2 linked regions of the Homo sapiens genome follow. The protein of the gene in region 1 interacts with the protein of each later gene in a biochemical or structural test. Each region holds a gene or a part of one and is shown in the gene's direction. Other genes may lie near its edges.

Region 1 (7,026 bases):
GGAGCTGGGGCCGGGGAAGACGCCCGGTCGGATGACAGCAGCAGCCGCATCATCAATGGATCCGACTGCGATATGCACACCCAGCCGTGGCAGGCCGCGCTGTTGCTAAGGCCCAACCAGCTCTACTGCGGGGCGGTGTTGGTGCATCCACAGTGGCTGCTCACGGCCGCCCACTGCAGGAAGAAGTGAGTGGGAGTTCCAAGAGGAGGGTTGGTGGGGACGGGGAAGTGGGGGTGGGGGTGGGGAAGTGGGGGTGGGGGTGTCATGGAGGTGAGGGCTGGTGGGGACGGGGAAGTGGGGTTGGGGGTGTCATGGAAGGTGAGGGTTGGTGGGGATGGGTTGGGGATGTGGGAGCAGGAGGAGGTCGAGTTGGGGATAGGACTAAGGATGGAGTTTTGCGGGGGAGCAAGGTGGGAGGATGAGGTTGGAGAGGGGAGAGTGTTGTGGTAGGGAATGGGAAGGAGCCAAGGATGGGTTGGATTTGGGGTTAGGAGCATATATTTGTTGAATGGTTTGGGATGGAGGTGGAATTGGGATTGGCTTTAGAATTGGGGGTGGGTGAAAATCGGGCTGGGGTGGAAATGAAGATAGCATGGAGATAGGGTTGAGATTGGGAGCAGATATAGAATGAAGGATGGGGATTGGAGTTTTGGGTGGGGTTGGAGATGGTTGGATTTGGGCTTGAGAATGCATATGGTGATGGCTTCTGGGTAGGGAAAGAATTAGGGTTGGGAATGGGATGGGTTTGGAATTGTGACTGGGATGGGGACAGGCATGGGATTGGAGACCAAGAGGGAGTTGAGGATGGTTTGGGGACCGGGGGTGGGGATGGGGGTGGGGCTGGGGCTGGGTGTGGGGTTGGGATTGGCGTTGGACGTGGAGATAGAGATCAGGGTTGGTGGTGACCTGCCCCATCTTCCTCAGAGTTTTCAGAGTCCGTCTCGGCCACTACTCCCTGTCACCAGTTTATGAATCTGGGCAGCAGATGTTCCAGGGGGTCAAATCCATCCCCCACCCTGGCTACTCCCACCCTGGCCACTCTAACGACCTCATGCTCATCAAACTGAACAGAAGAATTCGTCCCACTAAAGATGTCAGACCCATCAACGTCTCCTCTCATTGTCCCTCTGCTGGGACAAAGTGCTTGGTGTCTGGCTGGGGGACAACCAAGAGCCCCCAAGGTGAGTGTCCAGGTTCTTCTTGATACCGACCCATCTCTGCCGCCTTCCATCTTTCTCCACTTCTCATTGTGTTCCTGTTTGACAGTGCACTTCCCTAAGGTCCTCCAGTGCTTGAATATCAGCGTGCTAAGTCAGAAAAGGTGCGAGGATGCTTACCCGAGACAGATAGATGACACCATGTTCTGCGCCGGTGACAAAGCAGGTAGAGACTCCTGCCAGGTGAGGACACCTCTCTTTATTCAGCAGATACACACTGAGTGCCAACTCGGTAACATGGAGCGTTGCCAAATTCTGAGAATCCAGCAATTGCCAAGACAGTCAGGACCCCTGTTCTCACAGAGCTCATACCCTAGAGTAGTGGTGTTTAGTAGAAATAATGCTGAGCTGCTTATGTCATTTCCAGTTTTTTAGTAGCCACATTAAAACAGGTAAAAAAGGCTGGGCGCAGTGGCTCACACCTGTAATCCCAGCACTTTGGGAGGCTGAGGCAGGCAGATCACCTTTGGTCAGGAGTTTGAGACTAGCCTGGCCAACATGGCGAAACTCTGTCTCTAAAAAAAAATACAAAAATTAGCCTGGCATGGTGGCGGGCGCCTGTAATCTCAGCTGCTCAGGAGGCCGAGACACAAGAATCACTTAAACCCAGGAGGTGGAGGTTGCAGTGAGCTGAGATCGTGCCACTCACTCCAACCTGGGAGACAGAGTGACACTTTTGTCTCAAAAAGAAAAAAAAAAACAAGTAAAAAAGAAACAGGTGAAGTTAACTTTAATAACCCAATGTATCCCAAATACAATCATTTCAAAGTGTAATTAATATAAAACAATTATGAATGAGATACTTTACATTCTTTTCTTGTTTTCATATTAAGTCTTTGAAAGTGAGTATATATGTTATGCTGACAGCACATCTCAATTTGGACTAGCTACATTTCAGGTGCTCAGTAGCCACATGTGGCTAGCAGTTACTGTATTGGATGGCACGGATCTAGAGGGAAAGATCAGGGCTGTTTTGTATGGTTGGGCAGGTTGTGCACTGCATAAAGATACCATATCTAATAGGGGCACTCCGTGTTACAGATGTCAGTTTTGGCAGTTTTCAGGCGTGTGGTAGTTAAGTGTCTTGTTTCAACAAAATCTGTAATATGACAGTTTTCTAGCAAGTGCTGGTAAAATATCTTGAGGAAGGAAAAGAGAAATCTGGTAGGTATTTTTACAAGAGAATATTTAATACAGGGGATTAATTGCAAAGCTGCTGGAAGGGCTGGAGGAACAAAGTTAAAAAATAAAAAACTCTGTGGTCAAGAATCTGCATAAATAGGGCAATTTCAGAGAGTGGTAAAGGTTAACCCCAAAATAAAACATGGTTTTAGGATAGTAAACAATAAGGGCCAATATTCAAAAAGGTGGTCAGGGGAGCCTCCTTGGAGAGGTGGCATTTGAGCAGAGAATGGATGACACAAAGAAGCTAAACTCGTGAAGTTTAAGGGGAAAGAAAAGGCACGTGCAAAGGCCCTGAGGCAGTAAGGAATTTGGCTGATTCAAAGAAGAAGAGGAAACCAATGCAACTGGAGAACAAAAGTGGGGGCAACAGTAGAAAGTGACGCTGGAGGTGTAGGCAGGGGCGAATGCTCTGCAAGTATTTCTTGGTCACCAACACAGAGCTTCCCTATGTTCTAATGGAAGCTGTATCTGTTGAGGAAGACAGAATTTAAAATCAAACTGTTACATCAACCAGCACCCTTCTCTGTATTCAGGCTCCCAAGGGATCTAGAAGGACGTAAGTTAACAAGCTCTCATTAGCAGGGTGTGTGTTTCAACAGTAGTTAGGAAGCTGGGGATTCAGGAGTACTCCAGTCCCATGGCTATGAAAAGCTCCCCCCAAATTGTACAAACCTGACAAATGCAACACCTCCCCAGCTCTCCCCATTTCTTCTCTGTGCCCTGGGTGTGGGGGGGTGGGTTGCGAGGGGGAAAACTTTTAACAGAAGAAAGCACATCTCGGCCGGGCGTGGTGGCTCACACCTGTAATCCCAACACTTTGGGAGGCCGAGGCGGGTGGATCACTAGGTCAGGAGATGGAGACCATCCTGGCTGACACGGTGAAACCCTGTCTCTACTAAAAACACAAAAAATTAGCCGGGCGTGGTGGCAGGCGCCTGTAGTCCCAGCTACTCGGGAGGCTGAGGCAGGAGAATGGCCTGAACCCGGGAGGCGGAACTTGCAGTGAGCCGAGGTTGCACCACTGCACTCCAGCCTGGGCAACACAGTGAGACTCCGTCTCAAAAAAAAAAAAAGAAAAGAAAAGAAATCACATCTCATTCAAGTGGTGGCATTTAAAACTATTTAGCCTTTCTGTAGGCAAGGTTAGTATCTTGTTTTTCCAGACCTCAAGGTGTTTTTTTGTTTGTTTTTTCATACCGGTGTGTGGTCTGGGTGTGGCCACTAAAAGCTACAAGCAAGAAATAATAACAACTACAACAATACTAATACCAATAGTATAAAAATAATAGCATCTGGCTAATTGCTGGACACTGTTTTAAGTGGTTTGCATGCCTCAGCTCATTAACTCATTTACCTGTTATTATTGGCCCTATTTTACAAACAAGGAGCCAAGGCTCAGAGCAGTTAACTAACAGCCTCTCAAAAGAAACTCTGCAGAGATATTAAATTTAAAAAATAATGAGAGAAATTAAACCACAAGAAAGTTGAAATTTAGAGGTACAGGCAGCTAAGCTTGTTTGCTTTGAAACAGTGTCTGCTACTGGGAAAAAGGCAAGTCTTGGCTTTCCTAATAATTGATACCAGGACTCTGTAATTCATATTTTGCATGCATGTAAGTAAGAAATGAAGCCGGGTGCAATGGCACATGCCAGTAATCCCAGCACTCTGGGAGACTGAAGTGGGAAGATCACTTGAGCTCAGGAGTTCAAGACCAGCCTGGGCAACTAAAAATTAAAAAAATAAAAATACTAATTGTTTTTATTTTAGTAGATTTTATTCATACCACTTACATCATTATTGTAGTATGTACATATTTATTTCTTTTCTTTTCTTTTCTTTTCTTTTTTGAGACGGAGTCTCGCTCTGTCACCCAGGCTGGAGTGCAATGGCACCATATCAGCTCACTGCAGCATGCGCCTCCTGGGTTCAAGCATTTCTTCCACCTCAGCCTCCCAAGTAGCTGGGATAACAGGCACCCACCACCATGCCTGGCTATTTTTTTTTTTCCGTAGAGATGGGGTTCCACCATGTTGGCCAGGCTGGTCTTGAACTCCTGACCTCCAGTGATCTGCCTGCCTCGGCCTCCCAAATTGCTGGTATTACAGGTGTGAGCCACCGTGCCCAGGTGGGAGATAGACATTTCTCTCTACCTCAAACAGAGGTCCACTCAAGCTACTTTTCATTTTCTTCATAAATATTAGCCGAGTGGCTATTTTGCACCAGGAATGGTTCCAGGTGCTGTGGATATGGCATCAGGCAAAACAGACCAAAAACTTCCTGCCGCGTGGACCTCATGTTCCCCAAGTGGAAGACAGGCAATAAAGAGATAGATAAATATGTAGTAAATTAAAAAAAAAAAAAATTAGCCGGGTGTGGTGGCTTGCACCTGTAGTTCCAGCTACTTGGGAGGCTGAGGTGGGAGAATTGCTTGAGCCCAAACGTTTGAGGCTGCGGTAAGCCATGACTGCACTGCTGCACTCCAGACAGCAGCCTGGGTGACAAAGCAAGACGTTTTTGTCAGAAAGAAAAAAAAAAGAGACGAAGGGAGGAAGGAGAGAGAAAGGAAGGAAGGAAGGAGAAAGAAAGGAAGGAAGGAGAAAGAAAGGAAGGAAGGAAGGAGAAAGAAAGGAAGAAAGAGAAAGAAAGAAAAAGAAAGAAAGAAAGAAGAAAGAAAAGAGAGAGGAAGGAAGGAAAGAAGGAAAAGAGGGAAAAAAATGACTGTTGAAGAGCAGTGAGTATTATTATAGGAGGGTAATTATAGGGAGGTATGGGGAATTGAAGACAGGAAACACAAATTAGTCCAAGCGAATGGATTTCTATTGGGAGTGATTCTGCCCCTAGAAGACACTGGCAATACCAGGAGACATTTTTGGTTGTCACAACTATATGGAGGGGCATTACTGGCAACTAATGGATAGATGCCAAGTGTGCTGTTCAACATGCTATGATGCACACGGCAGGCCTCCACAACAAACCATTATCCAGCTTCAGATGCCCACAGTGCCCAGATCGAGGAACCCTCATCCAGGGGCTGAGAACCGTATTTTTGCAGAAGGGAGGTATAAGGATGGGTTGGTGGAGAATGGGGAAGGAAGGTGTGTGTCCAGTAAGAGAAATAAGGCCTGCACAGGCTGGAGGGGAGAGTGAGAGAGAAAGGGAGGCGGAGAGATACACGATGAGGGAGACAGGCTGGAACAGAAAGTAGAGACGAAGATTCGAGATGTGGAGAGGAAGGGTCACAGACCCCCCCGAAATGATGTGTGGACAACAGGAATCTGGAAGAGGAAGATGGAGTGGAGAGTGACAAATGGGGTCTAAAGGTTGAACTTGGAGGCCAGGCATGGTGGCTCACGCCTGTAATCCCAACACTTTGGAGGCTGAGGTGGGCGAATCACTTGAGGCCAGGAGTTCGAGACCAGCCTGGCCAACATGGTGAAACCCCGTCTCTACAAAAAAAATACAAAAAATTAGCCGGGTGTGGTGATGGACACCTGTAGTCACAGCTACTTGGGAGGCTGAGGCAGGAGAATTGCTTGAACCCGGGAGATGGAGGCTGCAGTGAGCTGAGGTCAGGCCACTGCGCTCCAACCTGGGCAACAGAGTAAGACTCCATCTCAAAAAAAAAAAAGCTGGATTTGGAGTGAAATATTAATAACATTCTCCCTCTCTCTCCTTTTGCCTGTGTCTCCATCTCTGTCTTTTTCTGCATTTCTTCATCTCTGTACTTTCCATCTCTGTGTGTCTGTTCCCATCTGCTTCTCCATCTATGGGCATCTCTGGGTCTCTCATGTCTCCTTCTGCCCACTTTGCCACATCTCTGCCTCTCTCATGCCCCCCTTTCTCTCCTGCAGGGTGATTCTGGGGGGCCTGTGGTCTGCAATGGCTCCCTGCAGGGACTCGTGTCCTGGGGAGATTACCCTTGTGCCCGGCCCAACAGACCGGGTGTCTACACGAACCTCTGCAAGTTCACCAAGTGGATCCAGGAAACCATCCAGGCCAACTCCTGAGTCATCCCAGGACTCAGCACACCGGCATCCCCACCTGCTGCAGGGACAGCCCTGACACTCCTTTCAGACCCTCATTCCTTCCCAGAGATGTTGAGAATGTTCATCTCTCCAGCCCCTGACCCCATGTCTCCTGGACTCAGGGTCTGCTTCCCCCACATTGGGCTGACCGTGTCTCTCTAGTTGAACCCTGGGAACAATTTCCAAAACTGTCCAGGGCGGGGGTTGCGTCTCAATCTCCCTGGGGCACTTTCATCCTCAAGCTCAGGGCCCATCCCTTCTCTGCAGCTCTGACCCAAATTTAGTCCCAGAAATAAACTGAGAAGTGGAATCTTCCTGTGTCTCCTCCCTGTGCAGGGTGGCTGTGAACAAGTCATATCTCCGCCTCCAGGCTCATGTGTTTTGTCTATGAGGTCACTTGGGTTGTGAGAAACAGAGGTCCAGTCAGACTACTTTTCACCTTCTTCATAAATATTGGCCAGGTGGCTATTTTTTATTTTCATTTATTTATTATTATTATTTTTTTTTTTTTGCGATGGAGTCTCACTCTGTTAACCACACTGGAGTGCAGTGGCACAATCTCGGCTCACTGCAACCTCCACCTCCCAGGTTCAAGCGAT
Region 2 (7,641 bases), on another chromosome or scaffold:
TTAATGAGTACCCGAGAATGAAAATGTTGGGCATATGGAAAAACTGAAAGACAATCCATATTGCCATAAAATGGCCTGCTTTTATCTGGAAAAGCCTTATTATCACTCACACTCATTCCTTCTACATCCTTTACCTCCTTCTCTTTGTCTTTCTGTCTGTCTCTCATTCTGTCTCTATCACACACACACACACAACACACACAGAGAGAGAGAGAGGGAGAGAGAGAGAGAGAGAGAGAGAAAGAGAGACTGGCTATAAAGAAAGCAGCATCTGAGGGCATCAATGGTAATTCGAACATTTTGTTTGCTTGGGATCAAGATTCCTTTCCATCACCATTGTCCTGGCAAATATAAGCTGCAAGTGGAAGTGTTTTAGCCAGATACTGCTCCACCACTCTATGGCTAACTAAGCAGGAATATCAGCTTCAACTATGCCATGGAATTCAAGAGAATATTCAACCTGGAAAAATTCTAACCCCAAACAGCACCTCCCAAAAGATGACTACAGCTCCTGTAGGAAATCATTTAACCACAAATTCCAACTCCCCTTCACTCCTACAGCCTCAGTCACACATCTCAAAGGGCTGATCCTTGAATTGTGACAACCTGACCCACATCAGCAGCCCAGAGGCCAGATGGCAACACAATGCCTTTCCAGCCTACTGGGTAGGAAAAGGGAGGGACAAGCAATTGAATGATTATAATTGAAATCCTGTAATTTATTATTTGTCAATAACTCCTGCCTTGGGGGAGTTCCCTTCACTCCTTAGCAAATGCTGGCAGCCGCAATATGTGACCACAGACACCTAAAACACCACTGAAAGCATTTCATTATGTGGCAACAATGATATGGAGAATAAGATCTCTCTGGAGATAAGAAGACATGCCACATCTCAGAGTTCACTATTCAACAGCAAAGAATTTGAATAGGGGGAAAAATTCCTTAGACTTAGGGGGAAAAATTCCTGAGATTCTGAGGGTAAAAAGCTAGCATGCAAGTGGGATCAGCCAGACTGGCAGGAAGTGGGGCATGAAAACCCAAGAACTATCCTCCTGTTTGCAGTATAATGTTACCCCTGCAGTTATTAAACTGCACAGATCAAATAACTATTTGAACTGAGCTGAGCTGAGTCAAGCAAAGAAATGTACTTCAATCATAGAATAGTAGCTGTCAGGTTGAAAAGGGCATCTATCAGACATCTACCCAATGTTCCTCTACCTAACTCCCATCCTAATTATCCCTGTCTCATGTTCATCTCCCTGTAATTGATGCAACCTGATGCAACATAAAGAGGATTTGGAGTGAAAAGCCCTGAGTTGGAGGCCTGGGCCTTGACTTTTTAATTTACTAGCCATACCACATTGGTCCTTCTAGTCTTCAGCTACAATGTGAGCAGATTAAACTAGTTGATGCCAAGATTCCATCCAGTTCAAAATTCTCTAGGCAATAATAGGGAACTCACTATCTCCAAAAATAATTATTTGCATGTTTGGACAATTCTATTAAAAAGTCGTCACTTACATAAAGCCAAAACATGGTTTCTTATAGTTTCTACATATTTATCTGAGTTCTACCTGCCTTGAGATTATATAGTCCAAGTATAATCCCTCTTCTATATAACAGCCACTCATATAGCCAAAGACAGATATTGCATCTCCCATCCATCTATCCATCCATCCATCCATCCATCCATCCCACTGAGTTCTGTTTGCCACTCATCTAGACAATCATTCTATCTACTTTACTCAGAACACATACCAATTTGTCCATATCCTTACTGAAAAATGGTCATCAGAACTGAACAAAGAGCTACAGAAATAGTTTGATAAATGCTGAGCCAAGTACCTCACCACCTATTTTGTTCCAGCTAATGTGTTTATTTTAATGCAGCCTAATATCACATTATCTTTTTGGCTATGGCATCACTCTGCCACTGCCACAATATTGCTTTTTTTACTCATGTCTTCTACCCTATCCTTGTAAAGTGTAATTTGGAACTGGAGTCAGAATTTTACTTTTTCAATAATATTCATTTATCAGATTTGAGCCATTGGTGCAACATGATAAAATCTTCTTGAATCCTCAGTCTATCCTAAAAATATTTGCCATCTATCCAAATTTTCACCTAAGTTATTGATAAAATACAATGAGCACAACATGGTCAGGAAAAAAGTCCTAGAGCAGACCACTAAACAATACCCTCCATATTGACATAATTCTGCAAGATTTGGGGTCTTTTGGCCCCAAAGAAGGTCATATCCAAGATTGCCTCATTCTTGACACTCTCTCAATGCTACCTTCTTCACTCACTCATAGTCCATGGTCTAGTCTTTCTGCTGATCCTGCAATGATTTCCACAGTTAAGTTCACCCAGACATAGGTACTTTGAGAGAAATCACTGTTTAAAACATTAAAAATATAAATAAGGTTAACAAAAAAAGGATAAAAGTTCACACCCAGAACAATATGCCATGGTGGAAATAATGTGGGAGTTGGAGTCTGAATAACCTCAGATTAAATCCTAGTTCTGTAACTTACTTGCTTGGTGACCTTGGGTGCCTTATCAGTATCAGTTCCCTCATCTCTAAAATAGAGGAATAATAATGACCTCAAAGGGTTGTCCTGATGATTAAAATTAATACACGCAAAATCTTAGCACATTCCTAGCACATAATGGGTATACAATATAGATTACTATCATTATTACATCATGGTAGAGACAAAAATGCAATAACTACTGGCATAAAAAAATTAGACCCAAGAAGAAAAAAGGAGAAAATGAATATCTGTGTTCTACAGATGTTAACCAATACTCCACAAAAGAAAGAATCAATGGTCTAATAAGGTTAAGAACGAGGACATTAAACACAGTTTTAAAAACTCGGGCATATTTTTATCTCTTTGACTCTGAACAAGATTGGCACACCCTTGCATCCCTTATTTGATCATGTCCCAGGCATTGCTGTAGGGCCCAAGGACACAAAGGATGACTCAGACCCAGTCAATGCTAGGGTGAGAAGAAACACAGGATTCAAGGCACCAGGGGGCAGGGGGCACACATATAAATAAGTAATTAATATAAAATATCACCAGTGCTATTGAGAGGTAAATACAGAGTATGTGAGGGAACACTGATAAATCTGGAGATGTCAGGTAAGGCTTTATGCAGGAGGTGGTAATTTTGAAGAATCTTAAAAGATAAAGAGAAGTTAAGGATGAGGGTCTCTCAAGTCAAGGTAGTGGAGGATAGCACGCAAAGATTTTGAACAGTAGTGGACCAATATGGGCTCGTCCAAGAAATATTGCTCATTCTAGAGTGACTTTTCCATGAGATACAGGTAATAAGAGGGACAATTGAAAAGATACAGATTCATGCCTATTGTAAAGGGGCTTGTACGTCAGGTAAAAAAGTCTGAAATTCTGCAGGCAAGAAGAAACCAGCACAGCGAATGACATAAGATGGTAAGCCAGCTTAATAGTAGAGAGAGAGGCTAGTTACGACACTTTTTTTTCTTTACCAATACCCAATTGAAAGATGGTCAGGTCCAGAACTAAAATTATAGCACTGGAGGTAGAGAATAGGCCTACATAACAAAATCTAAGCCTGAGTATAATTGATACGATGTGACATGAGCATGAGGGGTTAAGGAAAAGGAGAAATGAAAATGACTTTGTCTAGCTTGAGACACCCAGTGTGTGGGGGCATCATTACCAATATATGGGCTTCTGGAGGATAGTACATTTTGGTAGGAGGCACAATGTAAGTTCAGTTTTCAACACTATGGATTGAGATAACCATGGGACATCCATATGGAGATGCAATCTGCTCAACATAACAGTGTGTATATCATAAGACAGACCAGGGATAGGAGTCCCCTGTATATTTATGGCAATAAAAGAAAATTCATGGTTTAAGAAGGAAGAGTATGTGGAACATGTCTCTGATGCCACGATGTAATAACCTTGAAAACAAAGTAAAATTACACTAATGAGTCTTGCCTAATTAAACTCATGCTCCTAGTGATCACCACTTCTAGTTCAATTGTTCACATTCTTGCTCTGCTTTGAAAAATTAAAATTAAATTTGCCTATCCTCTACTGACCATAATTTCTAGAAGACGGCATTCATCTCATGGCAAGTTCTTCAGTACCCAAAGATGGAATACATAGATTAAAAAAGAACATATATGTAGATGCTTGTGATGTTTTCCTATCATAAATTGAATTTCAAGTTCTTATAAACGTATTAATATGTCCTACTCTTCTAGAGACAAGGATCAGGAAGTGTATTTATCAATAGATATTTACCAAGCACCTGTCAAGCCAAAGTGGGGTTACAGAAAAGTAGGTATGGGCCCTGCACACAAACAACCTGTATTAGCCAAAGGGACCCTTCCATAAAATTTCCAATATGTAAACCCAAATTTGGAACTTGCTGAAACAAGTACAGATGAGTACGTGAGGAAGCTGGGAAGTAAACACAGGTTGCTGGAGAAATAGAGGTGGAGATATGGGTGGATCTAGGTTTGGTTAGGAATGAATCAGACCATCCCACAGAGGGTGGCTCCTCCCTGCATGGGGCCTGCTATAAAAGGGCCATTATCTCAGCCTTCAGTACCCAGCAGGCTCCTTCAGGCTACATTCTATTTGCTCTTTTGGTGAACAAGGTAAGAAGGAATACATTTAATTTTGTCTACTTACTATTAACCAAGGTGGAAATCTGAATGTATGTGTACTGTAAGGCAAAAGGTTCTGGAAGTTTAGGGTTTTTCTCTTTCTTTTTAGTGGCACTGTCACTAAAAGGTTTATTTCTATATAGAAGGAAAATGAGGGCATAAATTTGCTTTCCATGGAGCTACTCAATACTCTGTATTGTTAGATTGTCCATTTATTCATTTACTTAACAAATATGTATTAACTACCTTCTACTTGGTCTTGGCTCTATCTATGCAGCAGTGAACTATATAAACTCCTAGCAGCTTACCTTTAATAGGGGGAAACATTTAGTAAACAACAATAAACAAATAAGATAATTTTAAATAGTGATAAGAACAATGAAGAAAATAAAAGAGTGATGTAGTAGAGCAGGGGTGTCCCGTCTTTTGGCTTCCCTGGGTCATAATGGAAAAAGAATTGTCTTGGGCCACACATAAAACACACTGACACTAATAATAGCTGATAAGCTTAAAAAAAAACTCGTAATGTTTTAAGAAAGTTTACAAATTTGTGTTGGGCCACATTCAAAGCTGTCCTGGGCCACAGATTGGACAAGCTTGTAGTAAAGTGATGGGAGGGAGGAGGAAAGTGCTTTAAATTAGATGGCCAGGGGAAGACCTCTCTAGGGAATTATCTTTGAGTTGAGATCTTAAACACAAAAGAAACTAGCCAAGGCAAAGGGCAAGATTCTAAGCAAGAGTAAACTTGTCCCAAAGAGCAAAAAGAAGCTAGTGTGCCTTAGAGCATACATAGTTAAAAAGAGGACCAGTGGTATATGGTGATGTCAGAGAGCTAGACAGCGTAGCTCATGTAAAGAGGGGCACAGTAGAATTAAAACAGTACATGTTAGATTTTAGCATGTACTTAAAGGGGTATTAAGCAGGAGGAGTAAGATAATCTATGTTTTTAAAAGACCACTCTGGGCTGCTACGTGGAAAACAGGAATATAGGAAGGCAAGAGCAGGAGCAGGGAGAGACTGCATTCTTTTATGTGAAAGATGATGGAAATAATAGAAATAACGAGAAATAACTGTTTGCTCATACCAAAATCTAGAAGTTATCCATGATTCCTGTTTTCTCATCACACTGATTCATCACCACGTCCAGTCAACTCTGCCTACAAACCTGCCAAATCTATCCATTTATCCCCCTCTCTGCCATTATCATCCTAGTCCAGTCTACCTTCATCTCCCAACACTGACTATTATGTTATCTGAAAATATAACAATTTATTCATCCATTTGTCTATGGGTAGATACTTGGGTCTCTTCCATTTTGGGGGGTATTATAAATAATAGGGCTATGCACTTTTTTGTGTACTACTTTTGGTTACACATATGTACATATTTCAGTTGGGAATATTCCTAAGAGTAAATCGCTAGGACTTAGATACTGTCAAACAATTTTCCAAAGTGCTTCTGTCACTTTATGTGCCTCCAGCAGTACATAAAAAAAAAAAAAATCTCAATTCTCCACATTCTCACCAATATTTGGTATTGTCAAGGATTTTTTTCTTTCTTATCTTTTTAGTCACTTTGGTGGGTGTATTGAGGTCTCACACGTTATTTCAATTTGCATTTCCCTAGTGCATAACAAGGTTGAGAAGTTTTGATATGTTTATTGGCCATTTGGATATCCTTTTCTGTAACGTTCCTAAGGTATTCATTTTTCCATTGAGTTAACTGTATTTTTTATTGATTTATAGAAGCTATTTTTATATTCAGGACAGATTCCTTTATTGGTTAAATGTGTTTTGTATATCCTCCCACTGTGTGGCTTGTACATCTCTCTTCTAATGCTATCTTTAAAAGAATAAACATTCCTACTTTTAATGCAGTACAATTTATCAGTCTTTTTCTTATTAATTAGTACTTTTTGAATTTTATTTAAGTATTTCCCCACCCCGAGGTCCTGAAGATATTCTCCAATGTTATCTTCGTTTATCTCTTACATGTAAAATCAACCTGGAAACTATTTTTTTTCCATTTGAAAATTCAATTAACCCAGCACCATTTATTCAAGACTATTCTTTCTCTACTGACCTACACTACCATCTTTGCCATTAACCAAATGTCCAGAGTGATATAAGACTGACTTTATACTATTATCTTTTATCATTCCATTTGTTTAGCCTTGCATCATGCCATATTTTCTTCCTTTATAACACACCTTGCTATCTGGTATGTCTTCCAACTTAGTCTTCTTAAAGATGGTCTTACCTAATCTTAGCCCTCTACATTTTCATATAAATTTTAGAAATCACCTTATTAATCTTTATTTTTTAAAAAAACTTCAGATATTCAGAATGGGATTTCATTGCATCTATAAATGAATTTAAGGAGATTTGATATCTTAATGCTATTTAGACTTTCAGTTCATAAACAAGCTATATATTGTCCATTTATTTAAATCTTTATCTCAATATTTATAATTTTCTGAGTATAGCTCTTTCATGTTTTCTTAGATTTATTCCTAAAAATTTCCTCTTTTTTTATGCTTTTATGAATAGCCTCCTTTCCTATTTCATTTTCTCAGCACTTATAATCTCAACTTTTATAATATTCTGAGTACAGCCATTTCATATCTTTAATTAGATTTATTCCTAAAATTTTTCTGATTTTTTTATGCTTTTGTAAATAGCATCTTTTCTTATTTCATTTTCTAAGTGTTTATTGCTGTTATATAGAAATACAATTGATTTTTGTATACTTATAACCAGAAGCATGTTTAGTTTATTTATTCTAATAGTTTAGCTATACATTCTTTTGGATTTTCCACATACAAAAGTTATATCATTCTGTGAGTAATAACAGTTTTATTACTTCTTTTCCAATTACTCTGCTTTTAATTCCTTTTCCTAACGTATTGCTCTAGCTAGGACTTTTAGTACAATGTTAAATAGGATGATACTATACATAGTATAT

Evidence for each region. The genes of interacting proteins can lie anywhere in the genome.
Region 2: of the proteins of KLK5 (region 1) and FLG, one has a biochemical effect on the other in vitro, tested with the Homo sapiens proteins (one study listed by IntAct).

The regions. Positions count from the first base shown.
Region 1 is NC_000019.10:50,943,014-50,950,039, reverse strand, and holds the end of KLK5 (kallikrein-5 preproprotein), read left to right. Parts: coding exon 1-185; intron 186-924; coding exon 925-1,181; intron 1,182-1,266; coding exon 1,267-1,400; intron 1,401-6,253; coding exon 6,254-6,409; 3' UTR 6,410-6,737; downstream 6,738-7,026. UniProt on the Homo sapiens protein: May be involved in desquamation.
Region 2 is NC_000001.11:152,322,216-152,329,856, reverse strand, and holds the start of FLG (filaggrin), read left to right. Parts: upstream 1-4,617; 5' UTR 4,618-4,668; intron 4,669-7,641.